Linked DNA regions of Homo sapiens: region 1 is linked to region 2. A link means that fine-mapping ties the variant in region 2 to the expression of a gene that starts in the linked region. Tissue or cell type: whole blood. Region 2 holds a variant in brackets; the other region holds the start of a gene. All regions are shown on one strand. Distances are from middle to middle.

Region 1 (8,094 bases), 21 kb after region 2:
CCACACCGGGCTAATTTTTGTATTTTTTAGTAGAGACTGGGTTTTGCCATGTTGGCCAGGCTGGTCTCGAACTCCTGACCTCAGGTGATCTACCTGCCTCGACCTCCCAAAGTGCTGGGATTACAGGTGTGAGCCACTGCGCCTGGCCGGGAGCAGAGGTTTAATAGGCAAAAGAAAGAGAAAGAACAGCTCTCTCTGGTGAGAAAGAGGGGCTTCGGAAAGGAAAAGACCCAGCAGTATGCTCTACTTTCTATTTCAGCAATTTCTCCTTTTGTTTTTTTTCTTTCCTTCTACTTTCTTTGGGGTTATTTTGTGCTAGTGTTTTTTTCTACCTTTTTATCCCGTTTCTCCCTAGCATTAGCATCTTAGGCTCCAAGTAATACTTTCATTATATCCTTTCATTTGTTTCTTCCCCCCTCTGCCCTTGTCACTTATGCTCTGGTATGTGGTATTTTCATTATTGTTCTGTTCTATTTTTGAATTCCTACTACAATTTTTAAATCTCTCTGATAGTTTATATTTTTCATTTCAAACTACTTTGTTACTAATTTTTAACTTATTTCCTTTTGGGTTAGGCAAAAATGGTATGTAATATTACCAATGTTAAAATTTGCAGGGCTTGCTTTATGGCCAATTTTCAAAAACGTTCCATGTTTGAAGAGTGTATTCTGAACTGGCTGCAGTGGCTCAGGCCTATAATCCCACCAACTTGGGAAACTGAGGCTGGGGACTGATTGAGGCCTGAAGTTTGAGACCAGCCTGGGCCACACAGTGAGACCCCCATCTCTAAAAATATTTAAAAACTTAGCTGGGGCAGTCCAGGCACAGTGGCTCACACCTATAATCCCAGCACTTTGGGAGGCCAAGGTGGGTGGCTCTCTTGAGGTCAGGAGTTCAAGACCAGCCTGGATGACATGGTGAAACCCCCGTCTCTACTAAGAATACAAAAATTATCTGGGTGTGGTGGCAGGCACCTGTAATCCCAGCTACTTGGAGGTTGAGGCAGGAGAATGGCTTGAACCCGGGAAGCGGAGATTGCAGTAGGTTGAGATGATGCCACTTCACTCCAGCCTGGGCGAAAGAGTGAAACTCCATCTCAAAAAAAAAAAAAAAAAGAATTACACCCTTTTTGTTGTTGAGACAGGGTCTCACTCTATCACTGAGACCAGAGTGCAGTGGCATGACAATAGCTCACTGCAGCCTCGACCTCCAGGGCTCAAGCGATCCTCCTGCCTCAGCCTCCTCAGTAACTGGAACTACAAGTGTGGGCCACCACTCCTGGCTAATTTTATTTTATTTTATTTTTTATTTTTTGAGACGGAGTTTTGCTCTTGTTGCCCAGGCTGGAGTGCAGTGGCACAATCTCGGCTCACCGCAACTTCTGCCTCCGAGGTTCAAGCAATTCTCCTGCCTCAGCGTCCTGAGTAGCTGGGATTACAGGCATGCGCCACCATGCCCGGCTAATTTTTGTATTATTAGTAAAGACGGGGTTTCACCATGTTGGCCAGGCTGGTCTTGAACTCCTGACCTTGTGATCCGCCCACCTCAGCCTCCCAAAGCGCTGGGTTTACAGGCATGAGCCACTGCACCCGGCCAACTCCTGGCTAATTAAAAAAAAAATTGTTTAGGCTGGGTGTGGTGGCTCACGCCTGTAATCCCACCTCTTTGGGAGGCTGAGGCAGGCAGATCACTTGAGGTCAGGAGTTGGAGACCAGCCTGACCAACACGGCAAAACCCCGTCTCTACTAAAAAAATACAAAAAATAGCCGGGCATGGTGGCACATGCTTGTAATCCCAGCTACTCGGGAGGCTGAAACAGGAGAATCGCTTGAACCAAGGAGACAGAGGTTTCAGTGAGTCAAGATCGTGCCACTGCACACCCAGCCTGGGTGACAGAGCGAGACTCTGTCTCAAAAAAAAAAAAAAAAAAATTTGTAGAGACAGGATCTCACTATTTTGCCCTGGGTGGTCTCCAATTCCTGGGCTAAAGAGATTCTCTCGCCTCAGCCTCCCAATTTCTGGGATTGCAGGCTTGAGCCACAGTGCTTGGCCACATCCCGTCTTTTAACTGGAGCACTCAGTCCCTTTACATATTTAAGTATTGGTATAATGGTTTCAAATTTTCCTTCTTTTGTGCCTTCTATTTGTTCCACTTGTTCTGTTTCTTTTTCTTTCTTTCCTTTCTCTGGATTTATCATTGCATTTGCACTATTTTCCCCTCTACTGATTTGGAGTTTATTCTTTTATCTTTTTTTTTTTTTTTTAAGAGACGGCATCTCCCTCTGTCGCCCAGGCTGGAGTGCAGTGGCGCAATCTCGGCTCACCGAAACCTCTGCCTTCCATATTCAAGGAATTCTCCTGCCTCAGCCTCCCGAGTAACTGGGACTACAGGCATGCACCACCACGCCCAGCTAATTTTTGTATTTTTAGTAGAGATGGGGGTTTCACCATGTTGGCCAGGTTGAACTCCTGACCTAAGGTGATCCACCCGCCTCGGCCTCCCAAAGTGCTGGGATTACAGGTGTGAGCTACCACGTCCGGCCATACAAATGTTTTATTTGATACTACAGTAGGGATTTTTTTTTTCTTTGACACAGTCTTGCTTTGTCACCCAGGCTGTAGTGCAGTGGCATGATCTCGGCTCACTGCAAACACCGCCTCCCCGGTTATAGTGATTCTCCTGCCTCAGCCTCCTAAGTAGCTGGGATTACAGGCACGCACCACCACGCCTGGCTAATTTTTGTATTTTTAGTAGAGATGGGGTTTCACCATGTTGGTCAGGCTGGTCTTGAACTCCTGACCTCATGATCCACCCGCCTCAGCCTCCCAAAGTGCTGGGATTACAGGCGTGAGCCACCGTGCCCAGCTGGAAATTTTGGTTAATAATTTATCACAAGTTTTATTTATTTATTTTTTTGAGACGGAGTCTCAAACTGTCACACGGGCTGGAGTGCAGTGGTGTGATCTTGGCTCACTGCAACCCCCGCCTCCCAGGTTCAAGCGATTCTCCTTGCCTCAGCCTCCCAAGTAGCTGGGATTACAGGTGCCCACCACCACGCCTGGCTAATTTTTTTGAATTTTTAGTAGAAACAGGGTTTCACTATGTTGGCCAGGCTGGTCTCAAACTCCGGACCCCATGATCCACCCGCCTCAGCCTCCCAAAGTGCTGGGATTACAAGCATGAGCCACCGCGCCTGGCCCTGTTGCATGTTTTAAAATAGATATACTTAGAAATATTACATGGAACCCCCAAAGTATGTACAACTATGATATGTCAATTTAAAAAAACTTTAAAAATTGCCATTGTTTCCAACAACCCATTCTCTGGAAATCAGGATTCTCAAATCTCAATAAACATCAAATTCATAAAAGAGGAAGACTTCAGGAATCTGAACAATCATTAAATACCTAAATGTTTCACTATTAGTCAACAAAAAAGTTAAACTCAATTTTAAAACCAAACTAGCTTATAAACACTAATTGAAACTTGCTTAGGGTGTATTTATTTGCCTTTCAATTTCTTCAGGGGTTAAATAAATTAACGAATGATATCATACCACCAGCCAACCTAAATCCCTACCTAGCATGATCAGTTTGGTTTCGCTGTACACCAGACAGCCAAAACTTGCAAGGTTTTGATTGAACAACAAATACTGCGTGCTTACTCTGTACCAAGCATCAGGACTAGATGTTTACCATGCTTTATTTCATTTGATCCTCACAACACCCTCATGCACTGTCATCCCCATTTTACAGTTGAGGAAAACTGCAAAGTTCAACCTGAGACCATCCGATTCCAAAACGTTTCAGGGAGCTGCGTTAAAGCGAGCACTGAGTTTGGAAGCTTCAAGTTCTAGGCTCAGCCACGTACTAAGCTTCAAAATGCATGGGAGGAGGTTTGTGGGGAGTGCTACCGCCGGGATCCAAGCTCCACTGGAAGGATTAACTATAGAAGTTACAGTGCTTTACAAATTCTTCCCTCCTCACCAAGTGCCAACCAAAACTACTACGCCAGGACACACGTTTTAGAACTTTCCCTAGATGTTTAAAAGTCAGAGACGACCAAGAGTTTAGAGACGCCGCACGTGGTGCTACCAGACTTCTGGTTTTTGAAGCCACCGCCTTGCAGGAGAAGCCTTTCCTGCACTCCAGGCCGTGAGTCGCGCTCACTTCATGTTCCCCACAGCCCCCAAATGCCAAAGGCTCCTCTAGGTCCCTGGCGCGTGTGACTCGCGGCGGGCACTAAGCGCAGACCCATGGGAGATCTCCTCCTGAACCCCAGCAACGGGGGTGGGGTGAGGTAGGGTGGGTAGGAGAGGTTGATCCGAATCCCAGGGTCCCACGCCATCGTAGATTTCGTATGAAAAGAAACAAGGAAAAAAAAAAGTTGGAGCCAAGTTTTCTTCACCCAACTTTTTGCCCTCTCCCACGTGGGTTGGTCTCTTTCTCCCAGGCTGGGCCATGCCCCCTCCGCTCGCTGCAGGCCTTTTGCCAAGCAAACAGACCGTGCGGCAAAGCAACACAGCTGCGGGGATCCTAAGGTTTCCTGAGTTCTAACCTCGGGCCAGGCTGCTGGGACCCCGCCGCTGCTGGGGTTCTAACTAAGGGCCCGGCGGTTAAGACCCAACGCCGGCGGATGAGACGGCGCAGGCTCTAAGCCTCCATCTAACAGGCTAGGGAGTGAACGCAACCCTGAGTCTCCCGCTTCCCGGTCCCTCGGCCGGCGCACGCACTCACCATGGCTGCGGTTCCGCGGGCTCAGCACTCCTAGGGGAGCGCAGCTGACGTTTCAGAAGCACTCGCGTGCACCGGAAAAACTCACAGAAGCAGCAGCGGAAATGGCCCCGCGCGGCAGGAAGCGAAGGTGACGCTACGCGAGCGAGTGGGCCCCGCCCTCTACGGGGGCACTGGCGCGGAAACTGGCCCTGTGTCGAAGAAGGAACGTACTTTGGCGTTCTTATGAGCTGCCTAGTACAAATTATTGGCAGAAACAATGAATTAAACATTCAAAAAGTAACCCACCGGCCGGCCGCAGCGGCTTATGGCTGTAATCCCGGCACTTTGGGAGGCCGAGGCGGGCGCATCACCTGAGGACAGGAGTTCGAGACCAGCCTGGCCAACATGGCGAAACCTCGTCCCTACTAAAAAATACAAAAATTAGCCAGGCGTGGTGGCGGGCGCCTGTAACCCCAGCTACTTAGGAGGCTGAAGCAGGAGAATCGCTTGAACCCCGGAGGTGGAGGCTACAGTAAGTTGAGATCATGCCACTGCACTCTAGCACTCCAGCTGAGGCGACAGAGCGAGACTCTCAAAAAAAAAAAAAAAAAGGCCGGCCGGGTGCGGTGGCTCCCGCCTGTAATCGCAGCACTTTGGGAGGCTGAGGCAGGCGGATCACTAGGTCAGGAGATCGAGACCATCCTGGCTAACACAGTGAACCGTCTCTACTAAAAATACAAAAAATTAGCCGGGCATGGTGGCGGGCGCCTGTAGTCCCAGCTACTCGGGAGGCCGAGGCAGGAGAATGCCGTGAACCCCGGAGGCGGAGCTTGCAGTGAGCCGAGATCGCACCACTGCACACTGCACTCCAGCCTGGGCAACAGAGTGAGACTCCGTCTCAAAAAAAAGAAGAAAAAAAAGAGGGCCGGGTGCGGTGGCTCACGCCTGTAATCCCAGCACTTTGGGAAGCTGAGGCGGGCGGATCACCTGAGGTTGGGAGTTCGATACCAGCCTGACCAATATGGAGAAACCCCCGTCTCTACTAAAAATACAAAATTAGCCGGGCGTGGTGGCGCATGCCTGTAATCCCAGCTACTCGGGAGGTTGAGGCAGGAGAATCGCTTGAACTTGGGAGGTGGAAGTTGCAGTGAGCCGAGATCGCGCCATTGCACTCCAGCCTGGGCAACAAGAGTGGAAACTCGGTCTCAAAAAAAAAAAAAAAAATTCCAGCCACTAAACAGTTAAGGCCTGGCTCATTATAATTGGCTGACGTCCCTGCCTGCTCAGATATTTAATATTTTGAATAGAACTTTTGGGTAAAAGAGTCTTCAGGGTAACATTTATTTTCCCACCAACACTGATCCTAAGATGGGAAAAGTAATTCCCCCACAGGAAATCAGGATACTGCAAGCAACGAGAAAGGCATGTTGAGTGGTTAAACAAGAATACATGTATTCAATACAGTGTTCATTAAATGTTTGATAATAGAAGGACAGGCAGATCCAAGTATTTCATAGGAAGAAAGAAATCAAGCAGACCGCAGGTTATATCACCCCATCACACATTCAGGGAACTTAATCTTTTCATTCCAGAGGATGGGTTTGTTTAAAACAAGTTCTTCCTCCTAATTACTTTTGAACAATTCCCCAATACTGTCCTTACCTGCACCAAGAGCATGCTAACCAGGCCTGGCACCAGGGTCAGAGTTGAGGCTGGGGCATCAGCCCCCTTTGTGAGGTGGCCTCAGTGACAGGGGTGCTATGAGGTGGCGGCTATCCTACTGCAGCTGGCTGCATCAGATGTGCCAGGCCTGCCCTCTAGCTCCCAACACCATCTGCCTGATCTAAGCTTTGCCATGTTGTTGTCACTGCTGGGTGCCTGTGCTGTGGTGGGGCCATTCCATGGCCCTGAGTGGGAGCCAGTGCAGGGCCTGCTCTCCCAGAATCACAGCTGCAGGGACCCTCAGTGCTGTGGCAACCTGCTTGTCCTCTGCCTCTTTCTGGTCTGGCAGGTCCGGCACTGTTGGCACCAGGTCACCAGGACCCGCTTCAGCACAAGGAATGTCATCAAGGTGAGTGGGCCCCATACACCTTCACCCTTCTTCCCTCAGCACCATGATTGTCTCTGTCACTTGTTACAAGGACCTTGTTTTATGCCTGGTGTACCAGAAATGAATCAGAGGGAAACTCAGGCTGCTCAGGGAGAGCATCGGCCAAGCCCCAAACCCAGGAGTCACCCTGAGCTCCTCTCTTTCCCTCACTCCACACATTCAATCCATCTGCAGGTCCCAGGGGCTATACTTGCAAATTGTATCTCAAATCTGATCACTTCTAACCACACCACACCCTCCTGGGCAGAGACACCATCATGTCTCAACTGGACCATAGCAACAGCCTTCTGCCTGGTTCTTGCTGCTTCTCTTATCCAACCACAGCCTATCCTCCATACAGTCACCAGAATGGCCTTCTTCTTTCTCTCTCTCTCTCTCTCTCTCTCTCTCTTTTTTTTTCTGAGACAGAGTCTCACACTGTTGCCTGGGCTGGTGTGCAGTGGTGTGATCTTGGTTTGCTGCAACCTCCGCCTCCCTGGTTCAAGCGATTCTCCTGCCTCAGCCTCCCGAGTAGCTAGGATTACAGGCGCCCGCCACCACGCCTGGCAAATTTTTTTTTTTTTTTGTACTTTTAGTAGAGATGGGGTTTCACTTTGTTGGCCAGGCTGGTCTCGAGCTCCTGACCTTGTGATCTGCCTGCCTCGGCCTCCCAAAGTGCTGGGATTACAGGTGTGAGCCACTGTGCCTGGCCTCTTTTTTCTCTCTTTTAAAAAAAAAAATTGGTCCAAGGATAATACACACACACAATTACAAGTGTGTAGATCAGTAAATTTTCATAATTGAATACATCAGTTTGTAGCATGCAGATTAAGAAACAAATGATTACCAGCAGCCCAGAAGTTTTAGTCACAACTCTGCGGATTTCCTTTTCTTTTCCTTTTTTTTTTTTTGAGATGCAGTTTTGCTCTTGTTGCCCAGGCTGGAGTGCAATGGTGTGATCTCGGCTTACCTCAACCTCTGCCTCCCAAGTTCAAGCAATTCTCCTGCCTCAGCCTCCTGAGTAGCTGGGATTATGGGCATGCACTACCACACCCGTTAATTTTGTATTTTTAGTAGAGGCGAGGTTTCTCCGTGTTAGTCATGCTGGTCTCGAACTCCCGTCCTTATGTGATCCGCCTGCCTTGGCCTCCCAAAGTGCTGGGATTACAGGAATGAGCCACCACTCCTAGCCAACTCTGCAGATTTCTTTCTTGTTTTTCTTTTTTTTCTTTTCTTTTTTTTTTTTTTTTGAGATGGAGTCTTGCTGTGTGGCCCAGGCTAAAGTCCAG
Region 2 (8,095 bases):
TTTTGCACTTTAAATGAAGCTACCTTATCGAGATAAGTCTTCCCCATGGTGTCCTAGGCTGGCATCACAGCTTTATGGTTAATTGCAGCCCAGATTATACGAGGTCCCCCATGCCATGTAGCTGGGATGCCACTTGTATGTAGCATTTCCAGTCACTCTCTCCTGACCTTTCCCCCCAGATAATGAAGGTTCTGGAAGCAAAAGGCCCAAGGTGGAGTATTCAGAAGAGGAGCTGAAGACCCACATCAGCAAGGGTACGCTGGGCAAGTTCACTGTGCCCATGCTGAAAGAGGCCTGCCGGGCTTACGGGCTGAAGAGTGGGCTGAAGAAGCAGGAGCTGCTGGAAGCCCTCACCAAGCACTTCCAGGACTGACCAGAGGCCGCGCGTCCAGCTGCCCTTCCGCAGTGTGGCCAGGCTGCCTGGCCTTGTCCTCAGCCAGTTAAAATGTGTTTCTCCTGAGCTAGGAAGAGTCTACCCGACATAAGTCGAGGGACTTTATGTTTTTGAGGCTTTCTGTTGCCATGGTGATGGTGTAGCCCTCCCACTTTGCTGTTCCTTACTTTACTGCCTGAATAAAGAGCCCTAAGTTTGTACTATATACTGTTCTTTTGTGTGAAGGAGAAAGGTGTGTATGCCTTGCATCCAAAACTTGCTAGCCATCACTTAGCTTAATTTTCTCTTTCATTGGGAACACTCATCACCACAATGGAAACAAAACAAGTATCAGAGGGGCGGGTGAGAGTGTGACGGGTCAGGGCAGGCGAAGGCATTTTGGGAGTAAGAAGCCCTAGCAGGATTATATTATCCTTATCCTCTGTCCTCTAGCCTGTTTTCCTTTAAATGTGTCATGTTAAGGTATAAAAATCAGATTTCTGAAGCAGTAAGAAGGTAACACTTAGTTCTGGGGCCATTTGCTTCGTGAGTAAACAGCAACTCCTTCTCATTGCATTCCTCTTAATGCAACATTAAGTCATGCAAAAATATACCCATTTTCTGTTGCCCTGAGAATTTGGGTTCCAGAATAAGTGAAATGAAGAGTTACTCCTCTTGTGTTTCAGGGGAGCTGTAGGAAATTCAAGATGAGAAAATGTCCTAGTATTTAAAGAAGGGGAAGAGGACAGGAGTGTCTTTTACCTTTTCTTCTTCTACATCCCTGCTCTGTCCTCCCTGTCCCTTTCCTGCTCATTCTACTGCCACTGCTTTTGAAGAATTAGCCTGAGGGAAGGAAGGAGAGCATCTGGAATTGTTGGTCTCCTCTGAGGATGTGAGTAAGGGTTTGCAGGTCCTGTGTCCTTCAGGACTAGAATGAGCAGCACCTCATGAGGAAGAGTGTAGGAGGGGCCAAATTACTCCTTTCAGCTTTGGATTCTTGGCTCTAAGCTTTATAGGTTTTTTTTTTAACCTGTTATTGCTTTTGTTTCTGTTTGAAAGGAGATACTGTATTTTTTTGTATTTCCTTACGTGTCTGGGCAAGAGGGGAAGATAATTCTCCCATTAGATGCTTAGAAATTGTTGAGAAATTGGACCATTCCCCTTAAATGGAGCAAGTTTGGAAACTGGATTCTATAGGGGGTTAATCTACCAAGGTAGATTGAAATTACACTAGTCACAGCCAGTCACCTGCAATAGGAGGGCAAGGAGTAGCCCCACTGAGCCCTTGGTATCCGACCCTGGATGCTGGAGCTAGTGAAGAGCAGCCCTGGGGTGAGCTCCAGGCTGGCTTTGCTGTGCACACTATGCCCAAGCCTACGCTCCTTTGCCTCCTACTTCCAAAATGGAGAGAATGAGAGTTCAGAGGTCAAACACCTACCAGAGCCAGGCAGGTATGTGAATGTTAGACAAATCACCCGAGGTCTGTGATAAACAGCAACAGAGTGATATTTCTCTGTAAATCAATGATGCCTTCTCTGCCTGCTGAGTCCCCCACCCAGGAGAGAAGAAATACCATGTTCCAGTGGAATTGGTTAGGCCTTTGGAAGCTCACGAGGCTGATTTAGCAAATTTACATCTTAGTGCCATCATATATACAAGTGACCTTGGGCAGTTTATGAGGCATTTTGAGCCTTAGCTTCCACATTCTTATAATAACGTCACATGGTGAAAATGAGAAAATACGTAAAAGAACATGGCACTCAATAGATACAGTTGGCCCTCTGCATCCGCAGGCTCCACATCGATGGATTCAACCTACATGGATCAAAAATATTTGGGGGCCAGGCGTGCTGGCTCACGCCTGAAATCCTAACACTAGGAGGCCCAGGCAGGCGGATAACGAGGTCAGGAGTTCGAGACCAGCCTGGCCAGCATGGTGAAACCCCATCTCTACTAAAAATACAAAAAATTAGCCGGGCATGATGGCGTGCACCTGTAATCCCAGCTACTCGGAAGGCTGAGGCAGGAGACTCGCTTGAATCTGGGAAGCAGAGGTTGTAGTGAGCCGAGATCGCGCCACTGCACTCCAGCCTGGGCAACAGAGCGAGACTCTGCCTCAAAATAAATAAATAAATAAATAAATAAAACTTGGGGAAAAAATCGATGGCTGCGTCTGTACTCTTGCTCTTGTCGCCCAGGCTGGAGTGCAGTGGCGCGATCTTGGCTCCCTGCAACATCTGCCTCCTGGGTTCATGCGATTCTCCTGCCTCAGCCTCCCGAGTAGCTGGGATTACAGGCGCACAACACCGCACCTGGCTAATTTTTTACTTTTAGTAGAGACGAGGTTTCACCATGTTGGCCAGGCTGCTCTCAAACTCCTGACCTTAGGTGATCCACCCGGCCAGGCCTCCCACAATGCTGGGATTACAGGTGTGAGCCACCGCGCCGGGCCAGACTTTAAATTTTGTCATTAGCCCGCCGGGCGCGGTGGCTCACGCCTGTAATTCCAGCACTTTGGGAGGCCGAGGAGGGCGGATCACCTGAGGTCAGGAGTTCGAGAGCAGCCTGGCCAACGTGGTGAAACCCCATCTCTACTACTAAAAATAAAAAAATTAGCCGGGTGTGGTGGTGGGAACCTGTAATCCCAGCTACTCGAGAGGCTGAGGCAGGAGAATCACTTGAACCCGGAAGAAGGAGGTTGCAGTGAGCCGAGATCACGCCACTGCACTTCAGCCTGGGCGACAGAGCGAGACTCTGTCTCAACAACAACAAAATTGTCATTATTCCATAAATAATACAGTATGACAATTATTGACATAGCATTTACATTTTATTAGGTATCGTAAATTATCTAGAGTATAATTTAAAGTATCCGGGAGGCCGTGCGTAGTTCATATGCAAATACTGCGCCATGTTACATCAGGGACTTGGGCAACCTCAGATTTGGGTATCCGCATGGAGTGCCCTCTGGCGCTTGACTTCTACCGCGGCCATCGCGCTTCCATCCGCCAGGTGGCGACACAGCCGGCGCGGAGCGCCGATCTGGGCCTGCGCATGCGCGCCACGGACGAGGCAGGCCGGGTGCCTGGGCCTGGGAGCCATAAGCCGGAGAGTCTGGCGGGCTAAGCTCAGCGGCATCCGGGTTCCTTGTGGCCGCCGCAGCAGCTCGAGAACACGAATCCGTTTGGCCAAAACTGAAACAAACACACGGATGCACATATGTCTGTTTACTTCTAGGCCAGGTGCAGAGGGAACGTCTGGAATGACACTCAACGAAAACTGC[G/C]GTTACTTGGGAAGATGAGCCTTTTACCTCTCAGCCTTTCCCCTTCTGTAATGTCTTGTTTTAATGTCTTGTTGAAAACCAGAAGAGGCCGGGCGCGGTGGCTCACGCCTGTAATCTTAGCAGTTTGGGAAGCTGAGGTGGGGGTGATCACCTGAGGTCAGGAGTTCGAGACCATCCTGGCTAACACGGTGAAACCCCGTCTCTACCAAAAATACAAAAATTAGCCGGGCGTGGTGGCAGGCGCCTATCATACCAGCTACTCGGGAGGGTGAGGCAGGAAAATCGCTTGAACCCGGGCGGCGGAAGTTGCAGTGAGCAGAGATCGCGCCAATGCACTCCAACCTCAAAACAAAACAAAACAAAAAAGTAAACAAAAAAAACAGAAGAAAGGCAGGGCAGGACCACGAGCTCTGAGGGAGATTAGTCATCCACTTCCTCTCCCTGCCGACTATCCAGAAATTCCATCCTCATTAGCATCCGTATTAGGAGAGGAAACACACCCAGGTTTTACTGGAACGGGAGCTATGTATTCAGCCTTTCTTGTTTAAGCCACACTGCCCCTGACTGTAAGGACCCTGATGCAACCTTCTCTGCATCATGTATGGAAGCAAATCCTACGTGGACTTCTATCTTCTGAGGACTCAGGCGGCTCGTGGGCCATGCCAGCACTTCTAGTGTTCCTCGCTACCCTGCAATTTTAGCATGACCATTTATTTATTTATTTGTTTGTTTGTTTATTTATTTATTTATGACTACAAAGATCCAGAAGACAAACATGACCATTTCTTTCTTTTTTTTTTTTTTTCTGAGATGGAGTCTTGCTCTGTCGCCCAGGCTGGAGTGCAGTGGCACCATCTCAGCTCACTGCAACCTCCACCTCCCGGGTTCAAGTGATTCTCCTGCCTCAGTCTCCTACGTAGCTGGGATTACAGGCATGTGCCACCATGCCCAGCCAATTTTTGTATTCCTAGTAGAGAAGGGGTTTCACCATGTTGGCCAGGCTGATCTCCAACTCTGGACCTCATGATCTGCCTGCCTTGGCCTCCCAAAGTGCTGGGATCAAAGGCGTGAGCCACCGCACCTGGTCCTTTTATTTTTATTTATTTTTATTTTTTTTGAGACTCAGTCTCGCTCTGTCGCCCAGGCTGGAGTGCAGTGGCACAATCTTGGCTCACTGCAAACTCTGTCTCCCGGGTTCAAGCAATTCTCCTGCCTCAGCCTCCCGAGTAGCTGGGTTACAGGCATCACCACGCCCAGCTAATTTTTGTTTTTGTTTTTTGAGACTGAGTCTTGCTCTCTTGCCCAGGCTGGAGTGCAGTGGCATGATCTCGACTCACTGCAACCTCTGCCTCCTGGGTTCAAGTGATTCTCCCGCCTCAGCCTCCCAAGTAGCTGGGATTACAGGTGCCCCCCACCATGCCTAATTTTTGTATTTTTAGTAAAGACGGAGTTTCCCTTTGTTGGCCAGGCTGGTCTCGAACTCCTGACCTCGTGATCCACCCGCCTTGGCCTCCCAAAGTACTGGGATTACAGGCGTGAGCCACCACGCCCGGCTAATTTTTGTATTTTAGTAGAGATTTTGTATTTAGTAGTAGTAGTAGTAATTTTGTATTTAGTAGAGATGGGGTTTCACCATGTTGGCCAGGCTGGTCTCAAACTCCTAACCTCAGGTGATCCACCTGCCTTGGCTTCCCAAAGTGCTGGGTGGGATTACAGGCATTAGCCACCGCGTCTGGTGGAAACATGACCTTTTTTTTTTTTTTTTTTTGTTTTTGAGACGGAGTTTCACTCTTGTTGCGCAGGCTGGAGTGCAATAATGGCGTGATCTCAGCTCACTGCAACCTCCGCCTCCTGGGTTCAAGCAATTCTCCTGCCTCAGCCTCCCGAGTAGCTGCAATTACAGGTGTGTGCCACCATGCCTAGCTAATTTTGTATTTTTTTAGTAGAGACAGGGTTTCACCATGTTGGTCAGGGTGGTCTCGAACTCCAACCTCAAGTGATCCACCTGCCTCGGTCTCCCAAAGTGCTCAGATTATAGGTGTGAGCCACCGCGCCCAGCCAACATGACCATTTTTATTGCTGTGGTTTGACAAGGCGTCCCCATCCCTTCATCACTACCCCGCACCCTCCTCCCACCTTAGTTATCTATTGCTGTGTAACAAATTACACCCAGGAACTATTGGCTTAAAACAATAAGCATTCCTCTCCTACCTGAAAGCTAGAGTGAGGCTGGAGGATCTATTTGCTGGGAGGCCGTAATGAGCATGTTTCCAATTATCTCTGTCTTATGTTTTGACATCTTGGGGGGCCTTCCAGACCCAGGAATAAACTGCTCCTCTCAGGGCTAGCTTACTCATAGAGACAGTTACCACATATTTGTGAGAATGCCTCTCATGCATGCCAGTCACCTCCTTTATCTTTCACATACCAAAGCATTATTCCTCCTGTACTAACTCATCCCAGGACCAGATGCCAGGCAACTAGAGACCACCCCATAGCCCAAAGCCCACTGGAACGATTCAAACTAGCCAATCAATCCTAAACCGTTTATTCTGTCCTGCCTTTCCTGAGGAAACTCTGATAAAGGATGTGGCCTATGATTCCCCTTGCTCTAATTCTGACTCGTAAACAAAGCGCGATGTTTCTCCCATGGCCCTGTGCTGTGTGGAATGCCCCTTCTCGTAGGAAACGTACATTCTTTCAATGGCATTGACTTAGTGTCATCACTCAATCTGTTAATTAAAATCCCACAGGAGGCCGGGCGCGATGGCTCACGCCTGTAATCTCAGCACTTTGGGAGGCTGAGGCGGGCGGATCACGAGGTCAGGAGTTCGAGACCATTCTGGCTAACATGGTGAAACCCCGTCTCTACAAAAAAAATACAAAAAATTAGCCGGGCGTGGTGGCAGGTGCCTGTAGTCCCAGCTACTTGGGAGGCTGAGGCAGGAGAATGGCGTGAACCTGGGAGGCGGGGCTTGCAGTGAGCCAAGATTGCGCCACTGCACTCCAGCCTGGGTGACAGAGCGAGACTCCGTCTCAAAAAAAAAAAAAAAAAAAATTCCACAGGTACAAATGAAACAGAGGCTCATTCCCATGGCTGGCAAAGGTGATGCCAGCTGTTGGCTAGAGGCCTTAGGACCTCCATGTCCTTAAGTCCATGGCAGCTGACTTCCCTTATAGCCAGTTATCTGAAGAAATGAAGGCAGAAACTGCAATGTCACATCGATTCTGCCAGACTCTGAGTTGGTGTGGTAGACTATACGAGGGCGTGAATCGCAGGTGAGGAGCACTGGAGCCATCTTGGAGGCTGGCTGCCACAGGTCATTGTGAATATTGACTTGCTACTTTAAATTATTTCCTTCCTTCACAAGAGTATAGTTATCTTCCATCCCCATGACCCTACCCCCAAGTAGATACATCAGCTCAAGCCAGAGGCCATACTTGATTTTTCCAAATGTAACCTGGGCTAGACATGGTGGCTCATGCCTGTAATCCCAGCACTCTGGGGGACCAAGGCGGGCAGATCACCTGAGGCCAGGAGTTTGAGACCAGCCTTGACAACATGGTGAAATCTCATCTGTACTAAAAATGCAAAAATTAGCCGGGCATGGTGGTATGCACCTGTAATCCTAGCTACTCGGGAGGCTGAGGCAGGAGAATCTCTTGAACCCGGGAGGCAGAGGTTGCAGTGAGCCGAGTCTGCACCAATGCACTCCAGCCTGGGTGACAGAGTAAGACTGTCTCAAAAAAAAAAAAAAAAAAAAAAAGTAACCTGATGCCAGGGGAATGGGGGACACTCATTTCCAAGAACAAGCTGCCTTTCCATCCATCAGTTTGAGATCAAAGATAATGAAAACGTTCAAATACAACAAATAAATAATCTCTTTAGGTCAATACTGTAAATGTAAAACTATTTAATTGCAGGTTCTCTTGGGAAAGAGTTTCAGGAAACACTGAAAATCTGAAATTCCTAACCAGTTGTGTTTGGGGTCAGGGGAACCTTTGAGACCTGATGAAAGCAACGGATTCTCTCTCAAAAATAAAATGTTTAGAAACAAAAATCAGAAGGCAATCTCAGGCTGGGCCCAGTGGCTCACGCCTGTAATCCCAGCACTGTGGGAGGCAAAAGCAGGCGGATCACTTGAGGTCAGAAGTTTGAGACCAGTCTGGCCAACGTGGTGAAACCCCATCTCTACTAAAAAATACAAAAATTAGCTGGGCGTGGTGGCACACTTCTGTAATCCTACCTACTTGGGAGGCTGAGGCAGAGAAATTGCTCGAACCGGGGAGGTGGAGGTTGCAGTGAGCTGAGATCATGCCACTGCACTCCAGCCTGGGCAACAGAGACTATGTCTCAAAAAAAAAAAAAAAAAAAAAAAAAAAAGAAAGCAATCTCAGACATTAGTTATGTTTAAGTTAAAAAAAAAAAGTAGAATGTT

The links. PIP is the estimated chance that this variant, and not a neighbour inherited with it, causes the effect.
Region 1: SNU13 starts here. The variant in region 2 is fine-mapped to the expression of SNU13 in whole blood (TOPMed, PIP above 0.99).

What each region holds. Positions count from the first base shown.
Region 1 is chr22:41,684,057-41,692,150 of GRCh38, forward strand. SNU13 (small nuclear ribonucleoprotein 13) reads right to left here and starts at 4,811. Exons shown (of 3, transcript NM_001003796.2): 1 at 4,738-4,811. The coding sequence starts at 4,740. It also overlaps the pseudogene C22orf46P. RefSeq lists enhancers at 4,011-4,180, 4,731-4,910 and a silencer at 4,292-4,491.
Region 2 is chr22:41,663,443-41,671,537 of GRCh38, forward strand. XRCC6 (X-ray repair cross complementing 6) reads left to right here. Exons shown (of 13, transcript NM_001469.5): 13 at 180-599. The coding sequence ends at 373. Among named protein-coding and RNA genes, the nearest start is that of SNU13, 21 kb to the right of the region's middle. The variant G/C (reference allele first, on the strand shown) is at 3,657.